Linked DNA regions of Homo sapiens: regions 1, 2, 3, 5, 6 and 7 are each linked to region 4. Evidence: fine-mapped expression QTL. A gene starts in region 4. Each other region holds a variant in brackets. All regions are shown on one strand. Distances are between the middles of the regions. Region 1 overlaps GRAMD1B (GRAM domain containing 1B). Region 2 overlaps GRAMD1B (GRAM domain containing 1B). Region 3 overlaps GRAMD1B (GRAM domain containing 1B). Region 4 holds the start of GRAMD1B (GRAM domain containing 1B). Region 5 overlaps GRAMD1B (GRAM domain containing 1B). Region 6 overlaps GRAMD1B (GRAM domain containing 1B). Region 7 overlaps GRAMD1B (GRAM domain containing 1B).

Evidence for each region. PIP is the estimated chance that this variant, and not a neighbour inherited with it, causes the effect.
Region 1: its variant is fine-mapped to the expression of GRAMD1B in left ventricle (GTEx, PIP above 0.99). The same link has a PIP of 0.9 or more in monocytes.
Region 2: its variant is fine-mapped to the expression of GRAMD1B in thyroid (GTEx, PIP above 0.99).
Region 3: its variant is fine-mapped to the expression of GRAMD1B in whole blood (TOPMed, PIP above 0.99).
Region 5: its variant is fine-mapped to the expression of GRAMD1B in whole blood (INTERVAL, PIP above 0.99).
Region 6: its variant is fine-mapped to the expression of GRAMD1B in thyroid (GTEx, PIP above 0.99).
Region 7: its variant is fine-mapped to the expression of GRAMD1B in whole blood (TOPMed, PIP above 0.99).

The regions. Positions count from the first base shown.
Region 1 is chr11:123,465,478-123,469,542 of GRCh38, forward strand. The region is part of intron 1 of GRAMD1B (GRAM domain containing 1B); the gene reads left to right. Among named protein-coding and RNA genes, the nearest start is that of GRAMD1B, 37 kb to the left of the region's middle. The variant A/G (reference allele first, on the strand shown) is at 2,060.
Region 2 is chr11:123,485,265-123,489,329 of GRCh38, forward strand. The region is part of intron 2 of GRAMD1B (GRAM domain containing 1B); the gene reads left to right. Among named protein-coding and RNA genes, the nearest start is that of GRAMD1B, 57 kb to the left of the region's middle. The variant C/T (reference allele first, on the strand shown) is at 2,329.
Region 3 is chr11:123,605,519-123,609,582 of GRCh38, forward strand. GRAMD1B (GRAM domain containing 1B) reads left to right here. Exons shown (of 20, transcript NM_001387025.1): 11 at 1,091-1,280; 12 at 3,141-3,284. Among named protein-coding and RNA genes, the nearest start is that of SCN3B, 47 kb to the right of the region's middle. The variant C/A (reference allele first, on the strand shown) is at 1,791.
Region 4 is chr11:123,428,087-123,432,151 of GRCh38, forward strand. It overlaps GRAMD1B (GRAM domain containing 1B), which reads left to right and starts at 2,183. Exons shown (of 20, transcript NM_001387025.1): 1 at 2,183-3,080. The coding sequence starts at 2,707. LOC124902776 (a long non-coding RNA gene) reads right to left here and starts at 3,128. Exons shown (of 2, transcript XR_007062928.1): 1 at 2,861-3,128; 2 at 1-730. RefSeq lists silencers at 2,321-2,650, 2,761-2,810.
Region 5 is chr11:123,471,911-123,475,975 of GRCh38, forward strand. The region is part of intron 1 of GRAMD1B (GRAM domain containing 1B); the gene reads left to right. Among named protein-coding and RNA genes, the nearest start is that of GRAMD1B, 44 kb to the left of the region's middle. The variant C/T (reference allele first, on the strand shown) is at 1,817.
Region 6 is chr11:123,557,855-123,561,919 of GRCh38, forward strand. All of the region lies in intron 2 of GRAMD1B (GRAM domain containing 1B), which reads left to right. Among named protein-coding and RNA genes, the nearest start is that of SCN3B, 95 kb to the right of the region's middle. RefSeq lists enhancers at 1,630-2,293, 2,294-2,956, 2,957-3,620. The variant ACGTGTGTG/A (reference allele first, on the strand shown) is at 2,319.
Region 7 is chr11:123,458,210-123,462,274 of GRCh38, forward strand. All of the region lies in intron 1 of GRAMD1B (GRAM domain containing 1B), which reads left to right. Among named protein-coding and RNA genes, the nearest start is that of GRAMD1B, 30 kb to the left of the region's middle. The variant AG/A (reference allele first, on the strand shown) is at 1,595.

The sequences.
Region 1 (4,065 bases), 37 kb after region 4:
CACTTGGGGCGTGGTGTGGTGGCTCATGCCTGTAATCCCAGCACTTTGGGAGGCAGAGGCAGGCGGATCACCTGAGGTCAGGAGTTTGAGACCAGCCTGGCCAACATGGTGAAACCCCATCTCTACTAAAAAAAATACAAAATTAGCCGGGTGTGGTGGTGCATACCTGTAATCCCAGCTACTAGGGAGACTGAGGCAGGAGAATCACTTGAACCCGGGAGGCGGAGGTTGCAGTAAGCTGAGATCACACCACTGTACTCCAGCCTGGGCAACAAGAGTGAAACTCCATCTCGAAAGAAAAAAAAAAAAAAGAAACACACTTAGGAATATTGTTTGAGGGTTCTTGGTGGAGAGGAAGTTGGGACATTGTAGGAAACAGAAGTGAAAGCTCTCTGTGTGTACTGGCCTGACTCTGTGAGAGGAAATGGATGGAGAAAATACTCGAACTCCTCATTAAACTGGAGCAGTTTAGTTAAAGGGCTCAAGATCATACTGATTGTTGAAAATAAAGATTTGGGCTGGGCATGGTGGCTCACGCCTGTGATCCCAGCACTTTGTGGGGCCTACGCGGGCGGATCACTTGAGGTCAGGAGTTCAAGACCAGCCTGGCCAACATGGTGAAACCCCATTTCTGCTAAAAATACAAAAATTAGCTGGGAGTGGTGGTGGACGCCTGTTATATCAGCTACTTGGGAGGCTGAGGCAGGAGAATGGCTTTAACCTGGGAGGTGGAGGTTGCAGTGAGCCAGGATTACAGCACTGCACTCCAGCGTGGGTGACAGAGTGAGACTCTGTCAAGGAAGGAAGGAAGGAAAAGAAAGAAAGAGAGAGAGAGAAAGAGAAAGAAAGAAAGAAAGAAGGAAGGAAGGAAGGAAAGAAGGAAGGAAGGAAAAAGAAAGAGAGAGAGAAAGAAAGAAAAAGAAAGAAAGGAAGAAAGAAAGAGAAAAAGAAAGAAAGGAAGAAAGAAAGAAAGAGAAAGAAAGAAAGAAAGAAAAGAAAGAAAGAAAGAAAAAGAAAGAAAGAAAAAGATTGACTGACTGATTTGGGCATAAAATGGATTCTGGCTTGCCCTGGGCTTAAGAACTTTCTGCAGCTTTTCAGCACTGACTTCTTTCTCCAACATGGATACTCTGCATTGGGAAGCAAGAGATTTTCCACAGGCAGGAAGGGGACCCAGGGAGTAGGGGTGGGGGAAAGTGAGGGGATGGTGCGTGTGTGGAGAGTGGAGGGAGGCTGGCCTTGAGGCTGGTCCAGGGTTTTGACCAATTCTTACAAACTTCAAGTTCTGGGAAGCAACTTGGTTGACCACATTACCTTCTGAGTAAAGGTTTAGTAAGGGATCTGGTTAATTTGTATTTATTCTCTTGAGAGAGCTGAAGATTTCACTGTGAAGTTAAGTAGTGATTGAGGCCAAGGAAGCTAGTAGGATGTGGGAAACTAGAAAAAGGTGGTGTGCTCCTTTACCTAAGAGCAAGTGAAGAGAGTTAAAGCTGACAGTTTCTCCTTGCCCCTTTTCTCAGAACCCATTTGAGGAATATAATGGGGTAAGTATAATTATTTTAATTATGTGTGGTGATAGGCCTAGAATTTTATTGTAGGTGAGGGATCATTTACCCTTTGTGAAAAAGGATAAAGAATATTTATTTATTTTTCCTAGCCAGAGCTTCATGATCTGTATTCACGAGAGCTAAGGATTGGCATGAAAAGTTAAAGCTTATAGATAGGCTGGGTGTGGTGGCTTTCGCCTGTAATCCCAGCACTTTGGGAGGCCGAGGTGGGAGGATTGCTTGCACCTAGGAGTTTAAGATCAGCCTGGGCAACATAGGGAGACCCTGTCTCAATTTTTTAAAAAATTAATACTCATAGATAATTCAGAAAGAAACAAACAAAAACGTTGTAGCCTTGGTTTTCAACACCTTTTTTTTTTTTTTTTTTTTTTACTGACTTTCACTGGTTGTGCCTAAATGGAGAGCCATATTCTTTCCTGCCCACCTTCTCATGGAGGCGCTGTCAGGCTTGAGATGCAGCTTCCTCATGTTGGATAACTGAGAATTGGACC[A/G]CAACTTTGACACGGGGGCAGGAAAGAGGAGCCCTGGCATTAGGAAGATTCTGGCGGGTTTTGTTACAGTGGCTTCTTTATGGGGAAGGTCCACATATGTCTAATTCAAGTCGGCATCGCCAGATGTCTGGAACCAATGCCTAAAACATAGTTGGTGGAAACATGGATGGATGAATGACATATCAGGAGTGGTGGGTTCCCTGAGGTCACGGGCCATGCCTTACACATCCAGCACGGCCTAGCAGGGTCCTTCCTTCCTTCCTTCTTTTTCTTTCTTTTCTTTTCCCTCCCTCCCTCCCTCCCTCCCTTCCTTCCTTCCTTCCTTTCTTTCTTTCCTTTTTTGTTTTTGATGGAGTCTCGTTCTGTCGCCAAGCTGGAGTGAAGTGGCGCAGTCTGAGTTCACTGCAACCTCTGCCTCCCGGGTTCAGGCGATTCTCCTGCCTCAGCCTCCCGAGTAGCTGGGATTACAGGCATGCCCACCACACTCAGCTATTTTTTTGTATTTTTAGTAGAGACAGGGTTTCACCACGTTGGCCAGGATGGTCTTAATCTCTTGACCTCGTGATCCACCCGCCTTGGCCTCCCAAAGTGCTGGGATTACAGGTGTGAGTCACCGCACCCAGCCTCAGGGTACTTTCAACATAGATGTTCAAAAAGTATGCACAAGGAAGGAAGGTGCAATCTGTGCTGATTTGAGAGTACTCAGCAAGGCGTCTTTCTGGGCAGACCAGTGAGTACTCAGTGGAAGTGGAGACTTTTACAAATACATCAAGGGAGGATAGGGCTAGATATTTGCACATTCATCAGATATGTATTATACACCTAATATGTGCTAGGCACTGTGGGTGGAAAAAAATGACACAATGGGACCATCGCTCTCAAATAATTTATAGTATGGTAGAAGGTTTAGGGAAATGAATCATTAATCGCTGCATCCCAAGGAGTATGATAATTGTTATGATAAAGGTTAGTGCAGGCCAGGTGCGGTAGCTCACGCCTGTAATCCTGGCACTTCGGGAGGCTGAGGCAGGTGGATTCCTTGAGTCCAGGAGTTCAAGACCAGCCTGGGCAAGATGGTGAGACCTTATCTTTACAAAAAATACAAAAATCAGCCCGGTGTGATGGTGGCACAACTGTATAGTCCCAGCTACTCAGGAGGCCGAGGTGGGAGGATTGCTTGAGCCCGGGAGGCAGAGGTTGCAGTGAGCCAAGATCCTGCCACTGCATCCAGCCAGGGTGACAGATTGAGACCCTGTATCAAAAAAAAAAAAAAAAAAAAGTAGTGCAGGGTGATATAGGACCATAATGTGGGTGGTGGTCACCAAGGAAGATTTACTACTTTTGAAGAATAATAGTAGCTATAATATTGTGTGTCTACTCATCTCTCCAAGTATGTGTGGGTGTTTATTTAATTCTCCCAAAACCCCAAGAACATAGATGCTATTGTCACCCCCATTTTATAGAGGTTGGACATCAGCAGCGTAGGTGGAAGAGTCGACTTGAACTCAGGCAGTCCAAAGCTGGGACAAAGAAGGGTGAGAGAAAAGGCTCTACCAGGCCAGTAGAAAGGCAAATTAAAAGGCAGAGGCAAGTAGAAGGGCTGGAGTGGAGAGCGGAGGTGACGTGAGGGAGCTGGGTAGAGAGGCAATAGCCAGGTTATGAGGCTGTTACTGCTCAGATAAGGAGTTGGAACTTGCTCGGAAATCATGGGAAGGCTAAAGGATTTTAAGCCAGGAAGAGACATGATTAAATCTGTGTTTCTGTAAGACCATTGTTTCAGTGTCAGGATAGACTGGAGTGGGGCCAGAGTGGCAATGGGGAGGGCAGTGAAGAGCCTATTAAAGTAATCTGGGTGAGGAGTGATGAGAGCTTGGTTTCAGACAGAGGCCGTCGGAGTGATGAATGGAAGGCGGATGGATTCGAGAGTCACTAAAGAAGTAAGGTCTGTAGGACTTGGTGTCAAACTGATGTGGGGTTGCATTTCTAGTTCATATGAATCTTTACTT
Region 2 (4,065 bases), 57 kb after region 4:
CAAATTAAAATCTTTCAGTACCAGATGCACTTTCAGCTGGTTTAATAAAACATTTTCTTTTCTTGCTTTTGTGTAAGGTTCAGAACGGTTATAGTATTCAGAGACTACGTAGCTACCTTACTCTACACAGCAGTGGGTGGAATACCTTAATACGGTGTTCAAACCTAAGGATTTCTGAGAAAGATTTTTTCCTTATTCACATTGACGCTCTGTCCTGAAGGAAAGACTTTGGAACCTTGACAGGAGTAGAGCGTAGGTTGAAGGACTGTGACATACATTTGCTGAGTGGGTGTGGCATCAGCAAGAAGGGTTGATTTTTATGAAAATGTGTTTATTAGGAAATGGAGATTGTCTCAGAGATAAGAATAATTCTTCCAGGTGTCCAGTAGAAAGCAAAATAGGTAACTTCCCCGAAGTGTGTGTGTATGGAATATAGGACATTAATTCATTCTTTTTTTTTTTTTTTTTTTGAGACAGAATCTTGCTCTGTTACCCAGGGTGGAATAGTGGCATGATCTTGGCTCACGGTAACCTCCACCTTCCAGGTTCAAGAGATTCTTCTGCCTCAGCCTCTCGAGTAGCTGGGACTACAGGTGTGTGCCACCATGCCTGGCTAACTTTTGTATTTTTTGGTAGAGATGGGGTTTCACCATGTTGGCCAGGCTGGTCTAGAACTCCTGACCTCAAGCAATCCACCTGCCTCTGTCTCCCAAAGTGTTGGGATTACAGGCGTGAGCCACTGCACCCAGCCTGATTGTGCATTTGTAAAGTCAATTTACTTAGTGTTACTCAACCCTCAACCTTAGTTTCCTCCTTTGTAAAAATTTGATGTCCATTGGATTTTCTTGTAAAGAATACATGAGAAAACATTCGTAAAGAGCCATTAAGTGGATGCTTAATAAATGGTAGCTGCTTGCACTCTGATTCTGGCTATCATAACATTTTACTCTCAGTTTCCTACCAGATCTTACACCCTTCTGTTCTTGACAAAGCAGAGACAAAGCCGGGCACCGTGGCTCACCCCTGCAATCCCAGCACTTGGGGAGGCCGACGTGGGTGGATTGCCTGAGCTCAGGAGTTTGAGACCAGCCTGAGAAACATGGCAAAAGCCCGTCTTTATCAAAACTACAAAAAATTAGCCGGGCATGGTGGCATGCGCCTGTGGTCCCAGCTACTTGGGAGGCTGAGGTACAAGATCCCTTGAGCATGGGAGGCGAAGGTTGTAATGAGCCTAGACTGTGCTACTGCAGTCCAGCCTGGGTGACAGAGTGAGACCCTGTCTCAAAAAAGAAAAAAAAAAAAAAACAAAAAGAAAAAGCAAAGGCAGAAAGAAAGTGTAGAATATTGAGCATCTGCAAATGTCACATATTTAGACTCCAGATAAATAGATTAAGTTGTGGTATTTCCCCTCAAGAAGCTGATTCTCTTATGGTGTGATATACTTACAAATAAACAAGTATAATATAATGTAATAAATGACTTAAGAAATTATGCGTAAGGTAATAAAACTGAAGAATTTTACAAGCTGGGTGTGGTGGCTCATGCCTGTAATCCCAGCAATCGGGGAAGCCGATGGGGGTGGATCCCTTTGAGGCCCGGAGTCTGAGACCAGCCGCCAACATGGCAAAACCCTGTCTCTACTAAAAATACAAAGATTAGCTGGGTGTGGTGGTGTGCGCCTGTAGTCCCAGCTACTCAGGAGGCTAAGGCTGGAGAATCACTTGAGTCCAGGAGGCAGAGAGTGCAGTGAGCTGAGATCGCACCACTGCACTCCACCCTGGATGACAGAGTGAGACTCTGTCTCAAAAGAAAATAAATAAAGAAGTTCACTAAGTGCTTACTCTGTGCTTAAACCTGTGTAATAAACCTTGCATACATTTTTAAATATATTCCTCTCAACAGCCTTATCAGGTACATGCCATTATCTGCATATTAGAGTTTAGGAAAACCAAGGCTCGGGGAATTAAACTTGCCCCAGAGAAACACAGCTACTCTGGGGTGAGGGCAGGGGTGGGAGGGTTTCCAGAAAACTCTACAGAGGGGGCTGTGCTTCAGCTGAGAACTGCAAGAGGAGTAGGAGTCTGTCACATGGACAGCATTTGCAAGCCAGGGAACAAGATGTACATAAGCATGGAGGCGGGAGAAAGCAAGGCATGTTCGGGAACCACAAATACTTCAGTGTTGCTGCAGCGCCATATCCTAGGAGAGGGGTAGCTAGTGAGTGGCCAGGAAAGGCCTTTGGACAGGTAGGCAAGTGCCTGGTCATGCCACGTCCTGCTGTGATAAGGAGTGAGTATTCTTTATGGATGACTGGAAACCAGTAAGTTA[C/T]GTTTTTTTGTTTGTTTGATTTTGTTTTTTTAGAGACAGTCTTGCTTTGTCACCCAGGCTGGAGTACAGTGATGCAATCTCGGCTCACTGCAACCTCCGCCTCCTGGGTTCAAGCAAGTGTCTTGTCTCAGCCTCCTGAGTAGCTGGGTTTAGCTGGGCGCCCGCCATCATGCCCAGCTAATTTTTGTATTTTTAGTAGAGACAGGGTTTCACCATGTTGGCCAGGCTGGTCTCAACCTCCTGATTTCAGGGGATCTGCCTGCTTCGGCCTCCCCAAGTTCTGGGATTACAGACGTGAGCCACGGCACCCAGCTGCCACTGAGTTATGTTGAGAAACTGAGCACCCGAGTGTCTTAGTGCAGGCAGCTGTAACAGAATACCATAGACTGGGTGTCTTGTACATCACAGAAAATTATTTCTTTCCATTTTGGAGCCCGGGAAGTCCAAGATCAAGATTTGGGCATTCAGGTGAGGTCCTGTTTTCTTCATAGACAGCTGTCTTCTTGCTTTGTCCTTACGTGGTAAAAAGGAGAACTCTGATCTCTTCAGCCCCCTTATAGGGGCACTAATTACATTCATGAGGGCTCCACTTTCATGATTTACGGCCCCACCTCTTAATACCATTGCACTGGAGGTTAGGATTTCAACATATACATTTGGGGGTGGGGCACCAACACTGAGTCTATAGCACCAGGTAGCTCCCAAATATTCTTGTGAGAAAAATCACACCTGGGAGGTGTTCAGAGTTGAGTCCTAGCCCCTCCGGGGCTGTGGAGGATGGATACCTCCCCCCGGAGCTCTCCAGGCCGGGCATTTGGGCATGGTATAATGGAAAACCTGTGGCCTGGCATTAACTGGCTGCCTGGCCCTGCTGTCTGCTAGGCACCACGTAAGGGATTCCAAGATGAAGACATGGTCCCTGCTCTTGAGTAATTTTTCAGCCCAGTGACTTAATATGGCCATCAGGCATCAAGAACAAGGCCATGGGGGTGATGACGTGTCGGAACGGAGGTGTGAACCTGGGGAGCCGGATCTTCTCCCCTCGCCACCCCACGGCCCTGACTGAAAGCTTTGGCCCTCCTCCTCCCCCGTTGCCACCCCATGGCCCTGACTGAAAGCTTTGGCCCTCCTCCTCCACTGTCACACTCAGTGATGGGGAGCCCTACCCTAGAAGTGTATCTCATGAGAGCATCAGGGATGCAGTGAAAGAGCGATGCTCAAGGGAGACAGGAAGAGAGAGCAACATAAAGATGTGGCTCCATGTCCATGGTGCACCCTGGTCAACAGAGGAAGGGGCGTGGGACCCGATGGAAATTTGGAGCTCAGGGAAAATAGTTAGGGGGGGGCGGTCCTTACCTCTCTGCGTACCCCCTTAAGGTTGACCCCTTAGATGGCCCAGGAACGGCAGGTGCTAGAGGAATGGTATCCACCTGGGCATGGAAGTGGGGCAGATTCAGGGGCCACTGGACTAAGGGGAGAGAAGGGCTTGTCAGCACCCACCCAGGGAGCCTGTCCATTTATGTCCCCAGATAAAGGGTCCTAGAAGAGTTAAAAAAAAAAATTGAAATCATGCCTGGCCTGTGGTTAATGTGTATGTGCCTATTAGTATTATTATCATTAAAACAGTGGGTCGAGGACGAAGGATTTGAGGAGCAGAGGTGGCAGTGAGTTTAATTTAGTCATGTAGAGTGAACTACTCATGGAGTGTGCCAGTGGATAGAAACACTAGGCCATTGG
Region 3 (4,064 bases), 180 kb after region 4:
GGCCAGCGTTTCCTAGCATAGTTCACTGGGAACCCAATCTGGGGAGCAGGTAGAGAGGAGATTGGTTACATTGTTGTCAGTTTCTTCAAGGAGGCATTCTGGAGCAGATGGGCTCTCCGTATTCTAGTGGCATAGCCCGGGGTCCAGAGCTGGGGCTAGGTGCCTGGGGTACAAGACTGGGTTTGACTTCTGAGCAGATGAAAACCATTTCAAGCCCACTGTGCTGGGCTGCTGCTGATCAGCCCTTCTGGTAGAGAACAATTCCAGGTATTTTTTCACTGCCTTGATCTGACGTCAAAGTCATGCATGAATATAGAACTATAGAACAATTAATTGTTTATCCACTCATTTGGTTGATATTTGTTGAGTATACGTATTGTGGCTTATTTCTCCACTGTGGTAGACTTTATGGAAGCCATAAAAATGTGTAAGAGAACCTCTGTCCTGTGGGACTCTGTTAATAGAGGAGGTAGAACCTTGATGAGGAAAGAGGGTCAGGGCATGTGCTGGCAGGCAGAAGAACAGGTAGGGTTCTTCAGGAAAGGACTCCCTCAAAGAGCCTTGTATTTCAGTAGGCTATGGATCAGACCACCTGCCTTCAGAATGAAAACATTATTCATTGGATACCTGGTCTTTATTTTCCATCTCTGAGGTTATCTTTAAAATGTAAAGAGTTGTATCGATTCCCTTCCAGGGCTAATGAGAGAATGAGTTTTAAAAAATGCTTATGAAGCCTTTCGAGCTTCTTAGGATAAACAGGTACTACCTGGAGGCAGGCTGACCTTGTTGCAGGATGGTGCAGGTGCGGCTCCAGGAAAGGGCCTGGGCCTGTGGGGACCAGCTCTGTGCATTTGGGGAGCTTGTTGTGCTGTTGGAATGGCGAGCGTGAGAAGTGCAGTAGTCCTTGTACTGTGTTTGCCCATCCTCTGTGGCAGCTCTGGGGAAGGGCTTTGGAGCCTGACTCTGACTTCGCTCCTGAGCAGCTGAGCTGGGAGTATGAGAGCTGCCAAGGCTGCATCCCTAATCTCCCTTTGGAGAATAGATCCAGACCAGGTTTCCCTGGTGGGTGACTCCTCTGTCTTGGCTCCAGTTTGATGGGCTGCCCCTGGAGGAAGAGGCGCTGGAGGGAGACGGGTCCCTGGAAAAGGAGCTCGCCATTGACAACATCATGGGGGAGAAGATTGAGATGATCGCTCCTGTGAACTCCCCTTCACTGGACTTCAATGACAATGAGGACATCCCCACTGAGCTCAGTGACTCTTCCGACACACACGATGAAGGTGGGCATTTGAAAATGGGTCTGGAGTGGCCCTTGCTCTGTTTTGAAGGCTAAAAGGAGATCTCTATGTGGGGACTGTAGTTAGTCTCTAGGTTCCTGGTGGAGAGATGGGAGCAGAGCTTCCTTAACAAAAGGTACCTGTTATTAGTTTACATCCCTGTTTTCAGTCATTTGCTGTAGGAGCCTCCCATAGATAATGCTTTGTTCTGTCATTTAGTCTTGTCACTAAATGTTCCCCCTATTGACATTGGCTTGCCTTGCGACCCTGACCCTCACAGACACGCAAGTCTAGGCAATGTTTATAAGCCACAAGGAAGGTGCCAGTCAGCTGCTCCCTGGAAATAATTAGATTTTAACAGAAACGTCCTCAAGATAGCTGCGAAACTTGTTAATGCAATTTTTGCTGCATGGGGTATTTAGGCCCAGCTAGAAGAAAAGGTGTTGCTGGGTCAAATAGGGTTTGGAGACTCCCTTGTTTCTCTAATTTTTGTAAGCAGGTAGCTTCTAACTT[C/A]ATGCCTGCATAGGATTAGCTTCTAGAACCTCCCTTGGGAACATGCTGCTGCTTACCTTCCATGGAGAGAAGCCAAATTCTCAGCATTCATGAAATCAATTGATGGATTTCCTCCATTGAGTGAGTGGTCTGTTATGACTGGTGAGCATATGAGCACGGTGCTCACTTGTGGATCTGTGGACACCTCTCCCAGGGGCCACCTGCAGTGGTTTTCTAACTTTTGGTTGGTTTACCCACCCCCATCTAGAGTCCAGGGTTGGCACAAGTGACTGCATGGGTTAGATACTGCCTAACTCCAGGGTGCCTTTCACATAAACTAAGGTGTGAATACCCGCTGCGCTGCACTTGTGCAGTACCCATCTGTGCAGTCATAGGACTTGACCCCTACAGGGTACTTCAGAGTTCTCTGGTTTCCTCAGGGTCCTAGGGGTGCCAGAAATGGCAGCCTCCTCCTGAGATCACATACCCACCCATGCAGGTGCAGTAATTAGGGACTGAGGGGTGCCAAGGGTTCGGGGGGGAGCACTGAGGCTTTAGCAGCTCTCCTGTATCCTCATTTGCATCCTCCTGTAGCAGCTGGAAAATTCAGATTACAGGTGAAATTCCCTGGCTGGCAATCTTCTGTATATGGACACAGTGATGTGCCAGAAGGGCTTTGCATCCCTGAGACTGAAGGAAGCTCCATTTTTGGAGCCCTCCCACACCTTGCTCTGTGTGCCTCTCATTCTGATTTGAATTCTTATTTTGCTATATGATGAAGCTGTAATCCTAAGTTTAAAAAGGGGAGTAGGTATTGACATCATGGTAGAAATAGGCTGTCTTATGGAACTGTAGTTAGGGATCACAGCCTATTGGACCAGCCCCAGCCTTAGCAGCAGTTCTGTACACTGATTCTTCCAGATTAGTCTACGTTCCCTCGAACAGACCTATGCCATGGGTTACAACTACAATTTGTTGTCGATTAGAGTTAACTTACAGACTCTCAAAACCCCATTCTTTGGGTTTAGGCAACTTCCAGAAGTAGTCATTTATTTGAATTTTAGTCTAAGATCAACTGAATTAGGGAGGTTTGAAAGTGTAAAAGCAAATCGTACATTCCCAAACACTTTGTAAAGAAGGAATGGGTAGTGTCAGCTAAAGGAAATGGTGTGCATCCCAGCAAAAGAAAGAGACCGAAAGCAAAGTCATAAACCATGCCCACGAGCTCAGCTGTCCTGCTCCGTGTCCTCTCCATACCCTTGTTGACTGTGCTCATATTAGCCAGAGACCTAAGTGCTCTTGGAGGATGTCCCTGGGGCCCCCTCCCCCTCCGCTGTCACTGTCTACTTCCTGATCCTCTCTTCTGTGCAGGAGAGGTCCAGGCCTTCTATGAGGACCTGAGTGGCCGGCAGTACGTGAATGAAGTCTTCAACTTCAGCGTGGACAAGCTCTATGACCTCCTCTTCACCAACTCGCCCTTCCAGCGGGATTTCATGGAGCAGCGGCGCTTCTCTGGTCCGTTCTGCTGGGACTGTACCCCCCATTCCTCCCTCTTCATCCTCACTTCTTCCCTCTCTACATTTGCTTCCTTCCCTTCCTTATTCTTCTTTCCACACACCCTCCTTCCCTCGGCCACCTCAGGGCCCAGACACCCTCTCTCCAGCCTTCTGTGGTTCGGGAGCTCCTTCAGGCCCTGTTGCCCTCCCTTTTCACCAGCCCTGCAGCTTCACCCTTTCCCACTACACACCAGGCACTCGATGCCGGCCCCTAAGACCTACCCTGTCCCTCCCCTCACAGGGCTCACCATCTAGTAAAGCACAGTGGCTCTCACTCGCTGGCAGCACCCACTCTATGCCATGCACGTGACGTTATCTCATTCAGACCTCACAGCTACCCTGTGTGTGGACACCGATGAGGCTGCTGGAACTCAAACTGTTAGTGCTTGCCTGACCTCATGCAGCTAAGAAGGAGCTAGGCCGGGCCTCACATCTAGGATCTGGGGGTTCATGCTTTGACCCTCTGTGCTTCTGCCTCCTCCCCTTCCCCCAAACTCTTCCCACAGCAGGGACCTCTAAGCATCCAGCTGTAACAAAGCATTTGGGCATCAGCGATCCTGTGTGCCAAGAGGAGAGGGCACGCTGAGGGCACGGGGAGGTCATGGCTTAGAGGAGAGGACTTGTTCCCAAGGGACCCTAGGCCCTCGCCACAGTAACACCAGTGTTGCCAGCACCCCCGTAGGTGGCCCCAAGACCTCCTGTCCCAGCCCCAGGAACAATCAGCATTCTGGAGCATTGT
Region 4 (4,065 bases):
TGGCCTCCAAGCGAATGGTGGTGTCCTGGCTTCCTTTCTTCCCATAAGCCCCTGAGACCCTCATCTTCTATGTCAAGAGCCCGCCCAAAACTCAGGTTCCTTGAACTGGGAAGTTATCAGATCCCTTGCAAAACACTCGTCCTTGGAGGAAGTACAAGGCAGTGAACAAACTCTGTGGAACTTGGCTTAGCTCCCGATCCTGAAGTTTGGAGTTACAGTGCAATCTCCTCAGCATCCCTGGAGCCGGAAGAGGTGACCTTGGCAGGCCTGACACCTGATGGCAAGGGGTTTCTGCTTTCTGTGCTATGTCCAGGAGTTAAAGTAGAGTGAAACCAAATCACTCCTGAGAGGGCCAGTGGCTGGATTTCAGAAACGGGGGCTGACATTCCAGGGAGTCATTTATGGGAGGGCCTGGCCTTGGCTCTTCAGCCGCAGTATCTCTCTCCCTGAGGAAGAAATATTTCCCTTGGTTTCCCAGCCTCTCAAAAGTTGTGTAATGTCAGGATGCCTTGAGCTTTTCCATACTTGACAAGTGTCATTGCAGAGCTTGGTAGATCCATAGCCAGCTGTCATCCTTGATGTCTTGCTGAACTGCAGGGATGTATTTACTTGCAGTGAATTCTTGTGATCTTTAGGGATGTGAATTTTCCTCAGCTTCGGGACACTTGTGAAATGTGACTTTTGTCCTGGCACGGAAGCTGGGCATTGGCTCCCAGATGGAAACTGGACTCTGAGAGAGGCAGAAAAGAAGGGTGGATCAGATTGTGGACTTCATGGTATGTTCTTGGGTGCTTCTCATGATCTCTTTGAAAGTTACTGACCAGGCTGGGCATGGTGGCTCATGCCTGTAATCTCAGCACTTTGGGAGGCCAAGGTGGGCAGATCACTTGAGGCCAGGAGTTTGAGACCAGCCTGGGCAATATAGCAAGACCTCATATCGACAAAAAGAAATAAAACTTAGCTGCGTGTGGTGGTGCGCACCTGTACTCCCAGCTACTCAGGAGGCTCAGCTGGGAGGACAGCTTGAGCCCAGGAATTCAAGGTTGCGGTGAGCCATGACTGCACCACTGCACTCCAGCCTGGGCAACAGAGTGAGACTTTGTCTCTTAAAAACAAAACAAAACAAAACAGTTACTGACCCAAGAGACAAATGCATTGGGCTGGGGTTGAAGGAGGAGAATGGCTGCTACAGCCCTGCTCTAGGAGCTGGGCTGGGTTAGACTCAGTGCCCACAGAGAGCACCTAAATAGGATGGATCGGTTCTAGGGTTGATGATCTCTTAGGGCCTGGGTCTAGAGAGTGAGTGTGGTTCAGCACATCTTGGGATGCTACCAGGACTGAACCAGACTTCCTAGGTTCCATGACATGGGGACATACTGGATTCTGTGACTCAGTCCATGGCAGGCTGAAGCAGAACTGAATCAGCCCTCAGCAATGTAAGGGGGGGTACCCTCGACTCCCTGGGGCTCTGTTGGATGCATTGCTTTGTGGGTGCTCACCGACTCCTCATTTCATTCTTTGCTAGGGACGCGGCTATGGTACTGGCAGCTGGCTCATGTACAGGGTTCAGGCCCCATTTTCCTTACTGGTCCTGTGTCCTTTGTCTCTCAGACCCTGTTGTCTGTCTTTCCTTGGTATGTCATGTCTGGTATCCTCAGCTCACGCCGCCACGGGAGAACTGTCCTCTTCTCAGCTTGTCATTTTGGAAGCAGCCTCCAGCAACCTTGCTTTCCTCCTCTGACTATACTCCGGCCTGCAGTGCCACTACTCACGCCCCCAAATAATTTAAACTGCCTTTCTTAGGAGACAAGAGCTAGTTGAAAAGTCTCCTCATTTTCCTTCAACCCTGTATCATGGGTGGCCTGAGAGAGTGAGGACTGAATTCATTGACTCCCCTTTCTCTGCACCCCCCACCCCCAAGGAAATAGCCGAGTTCGACTAATGGGAGTTGCCTGGCCAATCGTTGCCCTGAGAAAGTTTGGTTTGTGATCCTATTTCAGTAGGCTGATTGGAGCAGCCTTTACTTGGAGGTCGAGTCCCTCCCCGAGGGAATCCGTGTACAGTTACACTAGCGGTCGCTGCCAGTGCTAGCCCATTCAGGATAGCCCCCCTCACCCCGCCCCCAGCCCCCGCTCCTCCTCCTCCTTTTTTGTTTTTATCCAGTGTCTCGCTTCCTCTCTCTCTCTCTCTCTCTGTCTCTCTCTCCCTTTCCCTCCTACCACTGCCTCTTCCTCCCGCTCTCTACCTCCCTGCAGCGCCAAGCCGGCTCCCCAACCTGGTCTGCTGAACGCAAACCGCTGAGAGTTTGCTGCACCGCCCCCTGGGGCCCCTGGCTGCCGAGTCCCGCTAAGGCAAAGACGCCAGCAAGCGAGGAAGCGCAGCGGAAGAAAAACAAGCGGGCGCGCGAGGGGAGCCCCAGGAGGGCTGCCGAGTGGCTGGCAGGCGGCTCCCGCCCCTCCCGGGTGGCCTCGCCGGCGGCTGACGGCCCGGAGGACGCGCGCTCCGAAAAGTTAGACTCCGGGCGGCGGCGCGCTACGCCGCGTCCCCTCGCGTCCCTTCCTCGCTGCGCTCCGGGAAAGGAACTTGTTCCTTCGGCCCCAGGATTGGGGAGTGTGCCGCGGGGCCGAGGGTGGGGAACAGCCAGAGGGAGACGCGAACCAGGCCGCTGGCGGAGGGCTCAGGGGGAGCGCAGAGGCGACGGCCCCCATGCCGGCGGCCAACATGATGGAGAACCGGCCGCTGCCCGCCCTGCAGGTGCCCGAGCCGCAGGGTGCGCCCGAGGGCAGCCCGGTCTGGTCCAGTTCGTCGACCCCCACGCTTCGCCGCCGGCGCTTCAAGATGCGCCGCATGAAGAACGTACAGGAGCAGAGCCTGGAGGCCGGGCTGGCCCGGGACCTGCCCGCCGTCTTGGCCCCCGGCAAGGAGTTCCTGCAGCTGCCGTCCATCGAGATCACGCCCTCCAGCGACGAGGACACCCCGTGGTCCAACTGCTCCACACCCAGCGCGTCCCCGCGCCGAAAACGCTTCCTCCTCCGCAAGTGGCTGAGGGTGAGGGAGCGGAAGGAGTGCAGTGAAAGCAGGTACGTCCCCGTTCCGCCCGTCTCCTTCCCTTCCCTCCCGTCCTCTCCAGAGCCGTCCAGGGCCCCGGGGCATTCTGGGGGAAACGTCCTGGGGGAGAACAGGAGCCCGTCACCAGAGGCGCTTCTGGAGGGCGCTGCGCCTGGTCCCAGGGATGGTGGCATTCAGCTTCCACGCGTGCCACCCGCTCCCCAACTCAGGGTGAGGGGCTTCATGTTGCACGACACGTTTACGTGGGGCTTTACGCTGCATTCCATCTCCCTTGATCCTCGCAGCGAAATAAATAATAAAAATAATAACAGCTAATAGTTATTGAGCCCTTACCATGTGCGGGCCACTATGTTGCGCACTTCATGTACCTCCAGATTTCATCCCTACGCAAACTCTCTGAGGTAGGTATTACTATGGCTCCCTTTCTACAGAAGGAGATAGTAAAAGGCCAGAGAACAGTTAAGTGGTTTATATTTCAGGACTCCGTTTCAATCTTATTTTATGTTTGGCCACACCGGATTGCCTTAACTGGCTCACTTGTGTGGAAGTGAAATATTGACATTGAGTGAGTCACATTTCCTACCATATCAGAGTCTTTAGACATCGATACCTACAAGACTGTGGTTTGTACCAGCTAGTTTTTTGCCTAGGTCAATGTGGCATCTGGGTAATGGGAGAAGGTTGAGCTTCCCTCACGTAGAGAATTGCTGCAGGGCGCCCTAGAGCAGCTCTACACAGCCCTGGTCAGGACTGCTGCTTCAGGAAGTTGTGTCTGAGCCAAGCCCCTTGCCTGGTGGAGGGCAGGGAGTCCTCACTTGTTCATCGGTACCACGAATCCTACATATTTACTTTGAGACTTTAGGGTCCTGTCTCTTAATGGATTTGTGTTCTTGTGCGGAGCAACTGAGTCATTGATCACTTTCCCTGGAATTCCTTCTCCAAATCTGTTCAATTACATTGATTTCAATTCAGTAAGTACTTACTGAATATTTCTGT
Region 5 (4,065 bases), 44 kb after region 4:
TTAATGGAAGTTCAGCAATTACAAAGTAGTATGTATGTTCTTGCAATAAAATGGCCATCAAGAGAGGAAAACTAACGCTGGGTGTGGTGGCTCATGCCTATAATCCCAGCACTTTGGGAGGCCAATCCAGGTGGATCATTTGAGGCCAGGAGTTCAAGACAAGCCTGGCCAACATAGCCAGGCATGGTGGTGCGGGCCTGTCATCCCAGCTACTCAGGAGGCTAAGGTGGGAACTTGAACTCAGGAGGCAGAGGTTGCAGTGAGCCAAGATCATGCCACTGCACTCCAGCCTGGGCAATGGAGCAAGACTCTGTCTCAAAAAAAAAAAAAGAGAAAAAGAAAAAAGAAAGAAGTGGAGAGAGAGCCTTTTCTTTTGTTAAACACAGACATGGGCATGTTCAGAGGTGAACTATTTTATTTTTTTAGTGATATGGTTTCACCCTGTTGCCTGGGCTGGAGTGCAGTGGTGTGATAATAGTTCACTGTAACCTTGATCTCTTTGGCTCAAGCGTTCCTCCCACCTCGGCCTCCCCGGTGAAGCAGCGTTGTTGTCTGGGGTAATACCCAAGGTTCGTCATCTCATGCCAAGAAAATTAAGGACACAGACACACATGAGGAGTGAGTTTAGGAGTGAAGGTTTAATAGGCGAAAGAAAGAGAAAGAACAACTCACTCTTGTGAGAGAGAGGGGCACCCAAATGGGAATTACGCCAGGTGCTGTGGAGTGCACCAGATTTTTATAGACAGGCTTGAGGAGGTGGTGTCTGATTTATATAGGGCTCACAGACTGGTTGGACCAGGTGTGACGTTTACATAGCCCAGGGGGAAGGCTGGCCACTCCACCCTAATCTTATTATCCAGATGGGCTTTCCACTTGGCTGGCACCATGTTGTCTGCTCCTTACCATACATGTGGCTGGCAAAGAGAAGGGAAGATGGAGCCACCATTTTGAACATGCCTAGTCCCAGGTAGCCTTTTCCTATTGGCACAACTGCTGGCATTCACCCATGGAAGCTTCCAGCTTGCTTGTCTATGTCTGCAGCTAAATTTTACAGGCTGCTCTTTGTTAGAAAAGAAAATGATTTGGGGGATGCTTTTCATTAACAGGAAAATCTTACGGAGGACTTCCTTACCCTCACTATCTGCCTAAATAATTTCTTCTTTTATTTTTTGAGACGAAGTCTCGCTCTTGTCCCCCAGGCTGGAGAGCAATGGTGCAATCTTGGCTCACTGCAACCTCTGCCTCCGGGTTCAAACAATTCTCCTGCCTCAGCCTCCCGAGTAGCTGGGATTACAGGAGTCTGCCACCATGCCTGGCTAAGTTTTGTATTTGTAGTAGAGACGGGGTTTCACCATGTTAGCCAGGCTGGTCTCGAACTCCTGACCTCAGGTGATCTGCCCACCTCGGCCTCCCAAAGTGCTGGGATTACAGGCGTGAGCCACCGTGCCCTGACAATTTCTTCTTAACTCCCATATCACCAGTAGCTAGGACTACAGGCACACACCACCACACCGTGCTAATTTTTGTTTTCATTTATTTTTTGTAGAGATGAAGTCTCACTGTATTACCCAGGCTGGTCTCAAAACTCCCGGGCTCCAGAGATCCTCCTTCCTCAACCTCCCAAAATGCTGGGATTACAGGTGTGACCCACCTCACCCAGTCCCAAGAACCATTAAATAGAGAAGTATTCATGAGTTGTAAGGAGCTAGGAAGATATTTAGCTGGATTTTGAATCCCTGAATCTTTGACCAGGGATTCTACCCACCTTGCTGCAGGTTCCCATGGGAGCTATTAAGCAGAAGTGAACCTTCTAACT[C/T]GGTAGACAAATTCTCAATATTCACCTCAAGTATGTTATTTCTAAGTGGTGTTTGAGGATATTGAGGGATGTTCTGTAAGGAGGTGGCAGTACCCCAGTCACATTTGTTTACTTATTTTCTATTATTAGACTTGTCCATACCTGCTTGCCAGGTGGCACACAGAAACTCCTCCTTTATTCTCTCCATCTTTGCTACCTGCCTTCTCTTCCCCCATACACCTTTCCTACTTAAGCTGAAATAGTAAATGCCAGAGTCATTTTATATGTAGAAATAATTTAGCATGAAAACCCAGCTCTCTCTTCTGTCAGTGGTGGTGAGGCCCTACTTTTCAGGCTAAGGGCCTTTTCTGTTATCTTTCTCCCATGCACTGGCTATTTCAAAATATTCTGACACACTAACTGAATACTCAGTGTAATAGATATCCACCATTTATGATACACTCACCAAGGGCCTGCTACTGCCCTAAACATGTTCTACAGATGATTTCTACCATTTCTAATCCCCACTGCAATGTTTTCTTTTTTTTAACTTTTAATTTTTTTTAAAGTAATGGCAATCTTGAATCCAACAGAACTGCAGTCTTTTAAGGCATGCATTATTACCCACATCTGACTGTTAGAAAAGTGAAATAATTTTCTCAATCTCCCCCTCTGCTAAGTGGCAGAGTCAGGACTAGAATGTGCGTCTCTCTGACGCCATATCCTGAACTCAGATACTGTGACTGGATTATTCACAACTTAATCCTCTGTGCAGTTCTATAAATAGAGGACTAAGTTGTGAGTAATCGCAATAAGTCTCCATTTTTCAGGAAATAGGCTAAGGGAGGATAAGTGACTTGGCCAAGGTTAGAAGGCTAATAAGAAACAAAGCCTATGTCCCAAGGACCTCAATCCAGAAAAACAAAAAACAAATAAAGGCAGGGGGCAAACCCAGGTTTGTCTGCCTTGGTGCTATTTCTACTGTATCACTGCTTAAAATAATATATTTCCCCATTTTTATTAACAAAGACACAAAGACATCTATAACTGCCACTCAGAGCCTTTTGCAGCTTCTAATTAGCATGAGATAATTGATACTAACAGGAGAGATTGCCTCAGTTGCAGCCAGAAGTAAAGAGATGCAGTACATTAGTCTCTGCAGCCTGGGTGTGGGTAAATGTAGTTTCCATCAGGCTCTGGAAATACTGCATTACAGCCTACATGCCCCCATGACGGCTTGGGACCACCTGAATCTCTCAGAACCCCTTCTGGGCATAGGAAGCTATGACTCCTGTAGGGTTGCCTGGAAGAGAAAGAGCTGTTTCTCCCTAGGAAGCACCTACTCAGTAGAGGTTGCCATATTCCGTCTTTCTAGCAGTAAAGCCGTGCCTTTCAGAGGGCAGAAGGACGGCTTCCTGGTGGTTCGTGGGTTTAGTCTGTACTTTCTGCACGTGTCCTGGGTACAGGGAGGGAGGAAGGGAGATCACTGGAATCATGAGAATTTGCCCAGCCCGCATTGCAGAGCTTCCTGGTCAAAGCCTAGTGAATTTCTCCCTTGTGGAGCGTGCTTTGGCTCAGATTCCTGTGGATTTTTCCCAGTCCTTCCAGTGCTGCTGGTATTAATGTGACCTTCCAGGATAAGCTCCTGCACTAGCACGCTGGTCTTAAACAAAACCAGGATTCTGCTTCAGCTGGTTTCCCTCAGGAATATCCCAGAATTTTACCAAGAGCTTCCCATCTTATTTAGGAACATGGTCTAGTGTTCCAAAATTTAATTTATACAGTGAATTTTATCTGAAGCTTGAATGTACAGCAGGAGGGATTAAAGTCATCCTAGTTCCATATCTAGCTGTCTTGAGCGAATGGCAAGCAGTTGCTTATACAAATTCCCTTCCTTGCAGTGTTAAGCCATCTTTCAGTCATCCGGTGCCCAGGCAAGGACATTCCAAATCCTAGTTTAGAGTTTCTTTTTCAGGGTTTCCAACAGACAGTTTCATCTGTTAGTGCCCTCTGCTGGACTTTCTCCAAGTTCTTTTCAACCTCCTGAATCCCAGAGTGGACGCAGACTGGATGTCTTCTCCCACTAAGGCCTTGACTAATCTGGAGTGGAGGGAGGTGTGCTTTTTGACCTTGTAGCATGCTGCACTCCTTTATAAACACCTTGGCCTGGAGGTTGCTCTTTTCATGGTCTCCGAAGACTGGTAGGTTTATTTAGGGAGCAGCGTGAGTTGCCTGGGGTCCAGGTGGCCTATATCATTGAAAAAGGCTCA
Region 6 (4,065 bases), 130 kb after region 4:
TAGCACAACTTGTTCAAAGTTACATAGTAAGTGAGTGGGGAAGTTAGGACTAGGACTCTGGCCACTTGATTCCACCAACCCCTGTGTCTATGCCTTAATGGAGGAAAGGACATTCAGTGCAACTTTTTTTTTTTTTTTTTTTTTTTTAATGCAGAGTCTTGCTCTGTCGCCCAGGCTGGAGTGCAGTGGTGCGATCATGGCTCACAGCAACCTCTGCCTCCTAGGTTCAAGAGATTCTCCTGCCTCAGCCTCCCGAGTAGCTGGGATTACAATTGTGTGCCACTATGCCTGGCTAATTTTTGTATTTTTAGTAGAGATGGGGTTTCACCACGTTGGCCAGGCTGGTCTAAAACTCCTGAGCTCAAGTGATTCACCCGCCTCTCCCTCCCAAACTGCTGAGATTACAGGCATGAGCCACCATGCCCAGCCCAAAGATATTTACTGAATATGTGTGTACCCAGTACTCCTACATGCTGGAGGGACATGAAAGAAAAAATAGCCTACGATCTTCTCAGGGATGTAAAACCAACAGAGGACAACAGAACCTGCAATTAAGTTCTAAATGTATACTGTAAGGGCAGGGGCAGGAGAGGTACCCAACCGTTCTCGGGTGCTTTCACATGCTTTTTTGACTTCATCATCTTTTCAACAGTACAAAGGAGGAAATATGTAGTATTAGCATTTTCAGATGAAGAAACTGAGTTTGAGATAAGAGTACGTGGGTGACCAACAAGCAATGCAACTCAGTTTTGGTTTCAGATCTGACTCTAGTCCAAGATCTTTCCGTGGATTAACAGAGAAGAGCCAGAAAGGCATTTCAGAAGAAGTCGGACTTGAGCCAGACAAGGAGGGAGGCTGAAATTGGGGCATTGCCAATATACCTTTCTTTGGAGCTGGGATTCCTCTAGGTAACGGAGGCAGGGCCAGACAGCCCAGAACTATCTGCTTCCCGGATACTGTGCGGCTGCTGTTCTATCAACGGGCTGCAGACAGAAGCAATCTTGGAAAGACTTTTCATGATGAGCCTGCAGGGGCTGGCCCTCCCAGAATGAGACATTTTGCCAACAGATGCCCAAGAAATATTAGCTCTCAGCATGAGTTCGAGCAGGATGCAGGTGACATCAATGGATTGTAATTATTATTCACCTTCAGCATGTTTTCCTATGCAGCTGCAGTGGACAGACAAAACTGTCTTTTTGGAAGATTCAAAGCATGAGAATGCATAAGCCAAACATTTGCTGTTCAGGGTGGTCCCGGAATAGCAACGTGGGCATCGCCTGGGGTTTGTTAGAAAGGCTGACTTTTGGGTGGTCCCCTAGACCTGCTCTATCAGAATCTGTGGGTGAAGAAGATTCTTAGGGGATTAAAGTTTCCCAGGCATTGAGCTAACCATCATCATTGTTAGTGTTGTCGGTTTTGTGCTACATCCCTCAAGAGATGACAATGGTTCTCAAATAGTTGGGGTGTGAGGCAATTAGTTAATCGCCATGGGTCTAGAGGCAGGTGATCTGGATTCCCAGCTCTGCCTCTTTCTTGCATGGGACCTTCACTTTTCCAGGACTCAGTTTCCAGATCCACTAAACAGGTCAGTATTTAGGTGATTGTGGTGGGAATGAAATGATTGAATGTAGGCAAAATGCTTTGTAAGTCATGAATGACTTTCAAAATATTATTAATATCGTTGCTGAATAGAATACCTCGCACTGCCAGAACTTTCCTCTGGGGGCTGTCTGAGTACTAATACTGCATTTCGGTGAATGGACAGAGAAAAAAAAAACACTTCTAAGAGGTGCAGCTTAGAATTAGAAGACCCAGACGACTCTGCTTTGCCACGAATGTAAGTGCTTTCCCTGAGTGTTACTCTTGCTGTCTGTGAGAGCCTGACCTGCGGGAGAAGCGAGCATCCTGGAAGTCTGGGAGCAGCTACACTGAAGAGGCCCTCGGCCATCTTTTCTTGCGGATTATGGTCTCAGTGCTGGCCTCCTCTCTTCCTCTACTCCCAGGCCTCGGGCCGTGAGAGAGCCGCCATCCTTTGAAGGATGCACGACTCTCTTTAGAGCCAGGCACCTGTGTTTTTATTTAGTGTCACCTCCTTGATACAGGTCGACCTAGTGGGCAGCACCTGGGAAATAATTGGTGGCAGCGAAGGGAGCAGAGTCTCCGGGGAACATGGTCTTGTATTTTGTCGGATTGAGGGTGAAGAGGAAATAACCCCCCCCCCCGCAGCCCCAGCGGCTCTGTCCTCCACGCTGGCATGAATAATTGAGCGCCGGCAAGCTGACTGCACCAAAGAGTTGCATTATGTAAACCGGCAGGCG[ACGTGTGTG/A]CGTGTGTGCGCGTGTGCGTGTCTGCGCGCAAGAGGGGTGCGTGTCTGAGTGTGTCTGTGCGCCTGTGCGCGTGCGTGCCTGAGCTCAGAACAGCTGTCTGTGAGGGAGTCAGAGGGAGAGAGAGAAAGGGAGCCAGGCAGAGAGAGAGAGGGACTTCTGTAAGGCGGCACGACCACACCAAATAACAGCAGCAGAGGGAGGTGGGGGAGAGGGAAATAAAGGGGAGTCATGCTTAAAATGCTACAGCGGTGTGAAACAGCAGAGCAAAGAAGCGCCCCCAGCTTCTGAGAGCCCTGGCCCGAGTCCCCTCCCCCGTTAGAAACAGGGCTTTGGGATGGTCATGGAGGTGAGTGCCCTCCAGCCTCCTCAGGGCCCCCGCTCCCCGCCCCCGCCCCCCACTGCCCAATGCATGAATGAATGAGTTCCTCTCTGCACTGCACTCTGCTACTGTTCCTACCTAATGGCTTCCAGGTTAGTGCTAACTCGTGCTGACGCCTGGTGCGTGTGTGTGTGTGTGTGTGTGTGTGTGTGTGTGTGTGTGTGTGTGTGTGTGTATCTTTGTTTCCTCGTGGGATTTTTTGGAAGCGGTGGCTCTGTCCTGGGGTCAGAATGGGGCCCTGGGGGCTGTGGTGAAGACCTGTCTTTCTGGTTGTGTGCTTTTCTCATCTGACGCAGGCTGCTCAGAGCTGCCAAGAACACAAACCTTTCAAGGCAGAGTAAATCCGGAGTCCATGTTGTTTGCTTCTGTTTTCTGTTCTGGGGATCCGAAAGCAGCCAGTGTGACATCATGCTGCAGAGATGCCACCTTCTTTTCCCTCCCTAGCCTTTTCTTTTCTCCTCTATAGTAGCACTGCTTGAGCTGAGCTCTGGATCACGGAGGGGTGGCCCTGGGGTGGGCTGGAGAGACAGGCTGGGTTGAGGGTGATGATGGTCTCCTTGTCCAGCAAGACTTAATTCAGTGCCCTCTAACTTGGAGAAAGGAGGGCAGAGGAATGAATTAGTGGCACAATGCATCATGGAGAACTGGCTGAGAGCTTCTGGGGGAGGTGTGGACAGGCCATGTGCTCCTGTTCTCCACCTGCTGGCTTCCCTCCGCAGTGCCTCCGGCGGGGGTAGGAGCTGGCCAGAGCTGTGGTCAGGAAGATATGGACAGACACTGCTTATCCCACAGGGAGAGGGCCATGGGACAGATGGATCTGGCCAGCAGAAGGAGAGGATGAAAGGGGAAGTTGATAGCTCTCATCTCAGAGAAATAAAAGGATTTGTTTATTCTTTGGCTTAGCCAGCATTTGGCGCAGAGATTTGCCATGTATTTTGAGAAAATAGCTACCCAGTGGCTGGGCCTTACTCCCCCACACCTCCTTGCATTGTTAGTTATTTGCTTGATTTAGGAAGTAGAGGGCTGGGGGAGGACTTGGAGCTTGCTCTGTCCCCGGGGCCTCAGCCAAGAGCTCAGGCAGGGCTAGAGAAAGCCATCTTTGCCTCTTCTCTGGTACTTGCTAGCACACTGTGCTCCGGGGAGACCCCCTCGCTCCTCTACCTCCTGCCTCTCCTCCCTCTGCAGCTGACCTTGAATGGTGGTCATATTTCTAGCCTTTGCCTTGGATAGCACTCGGCAGGTTAGAGAAGTTTGGAACCAAGATGAAAAAAGCTGGCCTTGGAAGAAGGGTAAGGGAAAGGGATGATTTTGGGAGCCACCCGGAGCAGGAGATTGATAATGTCAAGGCCATGATTAAAA
Region 7 (4,065 bases), 30 kb after region 4:
GTGGCTCAGTCCAAGTCTGCAGGCCTCAGAACCAGAGAAGCTGATGTTGTAACTCTCGGTTTGAGGCCAAAGGCCTAGAACTCAGAGAGCCACTGAGGGACAGAGAGAGGAAGAATATAATCCAACTCTGGCAGTTCCATTCACATATTCACCTTTTCTCAGTTTTTGTTTTCCAGGCCCCCAGCAGAATGGATGGTGCCCACTCACAATGAGGGCGGATCTTCCGCACCTAGTCCACTCAGACTCACATGCTGATCTCTTCTGGCAACATCTTCACAGACACGCCCAAAAATAATGCTTTACCGGGTTCCTAGGTAGTCTTTAATCCAGTCAAACTGACACCTAAAATTAACCATCACAATTACCTTCTCACTAAAATCAATCTGAGAAGAAAATGGTCATAAAGAATTTGATGCAAATCCCTTTTTTGATTTATAGGATGAACAGTATCCTAGATAAGGAAACAGTGAAAGGCTGTTTTGTTTTTTTTTTTTTTTCCCCTCCTCTTCATACTCCCCAATGTGAGTAATGGGCAAAAAATTCCAGGAGAATGGGAGCATTCTGAGTGATAAGAACAAGTATCTCTCAACATGTAGAGTGTGTATACGGGTGGGTTATTTTCAAATTTCAAGTCTGCAAATGGGTAGTTCCAGGTATGGCTTGGTGATTGAAGTGGAGGTTCTTTTGGGGCTAGTCCTTTGTGCTCCTGTAATTTCCCCCCAACTCTGAGTCTGAGCTCAGTGAGAACAATCACTTTAATGCTTAATGCACACCGTAATACACAGCGGAGTTAACAGAATATTCAGACAATCACAGACACAATGGCCTTCCTAGCCATGAGTTTGGAAAAGTGTTTCTAGGAGCTTGTTGTAGCAGAGGCTGTGTAGATGACAAAGAACATGCACTGCATTGTAGATGGGTTATAGTTATGGTGACCAGCCCTTGGAGTTAGGGCAGATTGGGGTATTTGATTGCAAAGAAATAAGACACTTCTATATATTTTTTTTTAATTTGCTGATCATGGGAAAATCTTCATGAACCCTTATCTTCTTTTTTTTTTTTTGAGATGGAGTTTTGCTTTTGTCACCCAGGCGAGAGTGCAGTGGCATGATCTGGGCTCACTGCAACCTCCATCTCCTGGGTTCAAGCAATTCTCCTGCCTCAGCCTCCAGAGTAGCTGGGATTACAGGTGTGAGCCACCATACCTGGCTAATTTTCTATTTTTAATAGAGGTGGGGTTTTGCCATGTTGTCTAGGCTGGTCTCCAACTCCCGACTTCAGATGATCCACCCACCTCGGCCTCCCAAATTGTTGAGATTACAGGCATGCACCACTGTGGTCGGCCATATTCATGATTTAAAGGAATTGAAGATAAAAGAATTGAGTTTGATAAAAAAGAGAGAGAAGAATATTATTTTCTTCAAATACTGACTTTTAAGTGAGATAGTGTGCAAAAAATCCATATACTAGGTACTCAAATACCTGTTAGTTGACCCTTCCCCTATGATGTGAACTGGTTATTCACAACTATCTTTATACTTTAAGTCCTGTTCCTAAACACACACTGAGGTTCTGGAGGGCAGGGCTGGGTCTT[AG/A]GTAAATTTGTTCTGCTACCTTCTCACTGGACACCTGGCTCACCCAAAGCTTGCCTCTCATCTGTTTTCTGTGTACAGATTGCCATTCAAAAAGTGTTTTCTGAGTGAATGAATTATTTACTTTATGGAGCATCAACATCCTTTTTATGTTCTTGTCCATTTTTATGTCCTTGTCCTCACCCTTGTCCCTTCAAGTTCAGTGGGTCCCAGAACTGAACTTGAAGAGAGTTAATTGGATATAGGCCAGGAGTGTGATTGGACATACGTGTGTGTGTGTTTCATTAAAATTCTCAAACTAAAAATAAATGGTTTGTGGATTAGTCAACTTCTGTTTTCTTCTGCTCGATATCCTGAATTATCCAGTACCTGTTGCCTCCATGCTACTGAAAAGTGACCATGTGTGGTATGACAAGCTTATCAGAAGGCTGTCAAAGTGCTTGGCAGAGAAGACATGGAGTTTAATCCTGAGTGGAAAATGGCATTGTGGAAACAGATGAATTATAGTAGATGAATATAGTAGAAAATATAGTAGATGAATTAAAGTACATGAATTATCTACTTTGTGGACCATCAAAATCCTTTTTATGTTCTTGTCCAAGTTCAGTGGGTTCCGGGACTGAACTTGAAGAGGGTTAATTGGATATAGGCCAGGAGCGTGATTGGGCAGATTTGTGGCAATTACACCTAGACACCGTGACTCCAGCCCCAGTCAATGCGGGGATTTCTCCCCAGGCCCCCCAGGGCACTCTGTGAGTGTTAATGACCAGAGTTTTTGGTTAGGACTGTTTTTATGTCTTCCAATTGGAAAAAACAAGATAATGCTTTTACCATAAGCCAGTTTTTCCCGGGGCTAAGGGCAAATGAAATTGGATGGTGGTTGGGTCAGCAGGATTTGGGGGGCGGACAGGAGTGGGGCAGGGAAGGGGAGGCAGGAAGCTGAAAGGATTCTTTCTGGAAAACAGCACAGCTTGCGGGCTGCTTGTCCTTGAGCTCCGAGGTCACTAGAGCGGTTGGTCTTTGATAGGGTTTCTGCATGAATCCCCTGCTCCTACGTTTCCTTTGTCCCTTTAGGACCCAAGAATCCATCTGCCTTCCCAGGTGCATCAGCTTCTCCTTTCCTTGGGCGCCTCTTTCCTGGGCCGTCCAGGAAGAACACAAGGCTCTCTGTGTCTTTCCCACCTCGTGACCTTTTGGAATTCACATATTTTTGGCTTTTTAAGAGGTTTGGCTTGTGTTGACTAGAGGGAAACAGGTGATAGCAAAATTAATAGCCAGTTGGGAAGCCATAGTCATAAAAAATGTCTTAAAAACATATTGAGTCTTAATTGAGTTTGGTCTTCAATCAGATGTGAATGGACCAGTGCTCCTGTTGCCTGGGCTGCTTCTAAAATGTTCTTGTCAGTTCAGTCGTCTTTCTGGGGAATCAGCTGCCCCGACTGACTCCAGGTTGGCTCCTAAATCAAGCTATGTTGACTTCAGCTGGCAGAAAAGCCAAGCTGGCACTGCTACCAGGACTGTTTCCTAAGAGTCCCCCAGGGCACCAGCATTTCTGTCTGCAGCTGGCCGAGCCCTTGTGATTCCTGTCCTTGTGGCTAAATGAGGTGGTGCTGGCCTCTCTGGTTCCCAAAGACTCCCCCTTGGGCTGCAGGCCAAACGTCACTGGCCTCCTAGAAGTCTCTCCAGCCCTGGCTCTAGCTCTGGGAAGTCCTGGCCTATGCCTTGGCACACTGCTCTGTCTTTTTTGGATTGTCTATGGTTTCTTCCCCAGCTGGTTGTTGAGACAGCTCTACTTTTTGTTGTTGTTGTTGTTTTGTTTTGAGACAGAGTTTCGTTCTTGTTGCCCAGGCTGCAGTGCAATGGCGTGATCTCGGCTCACTGCAACCTCTGCCTCCTGGGTTCAAGTGATTCTTCTGCCTTAGCCTCCCGAGTAGCTGGGATTACAGGTGTCCACCACCACACTCGGCTAATTTTTGTATTTTTAGTAGAGACGGGGGTTTCACCATGTTGGCCAGGCTGGTCTCAAACTCCTGACCTCATGCGATACCCCCGCCTCAGCCTCCCAAAGTGCTGGGATTACAGGCATGAGCCACTGCGCCCGGCCAAGATAGCTCTACTTTCAAGTGCAGGTTTTTTTTTTTTCTGGTATGGTCATTTGTTTATTTCTTTTTTTTTTTTTTTTTGAAATGGGATCTTGCTCTGTCGCCCAGGCTGGAGTGCAGTGGCACGGTCTTGGCTCACTGCAAGGTCCACCTCCTGGGTTCACGCCATTCTCCTGCCTCAGCCTCCCGAGTAGCTGGGACCACAGGCGCCCGCCACCATGCCTGGCCAATTTTTCTGTATTTTTAGTAGAGATGAGGTTTCACCATGTTAGCCAGGATGGTCTCGATCTCCTGACCTCGTGATCTGCCCGCCTTGGCCTCCCAAAGTGCTGGGATTACAGGTGTGAGCCACCGTGCCGGGCCAGTCATTT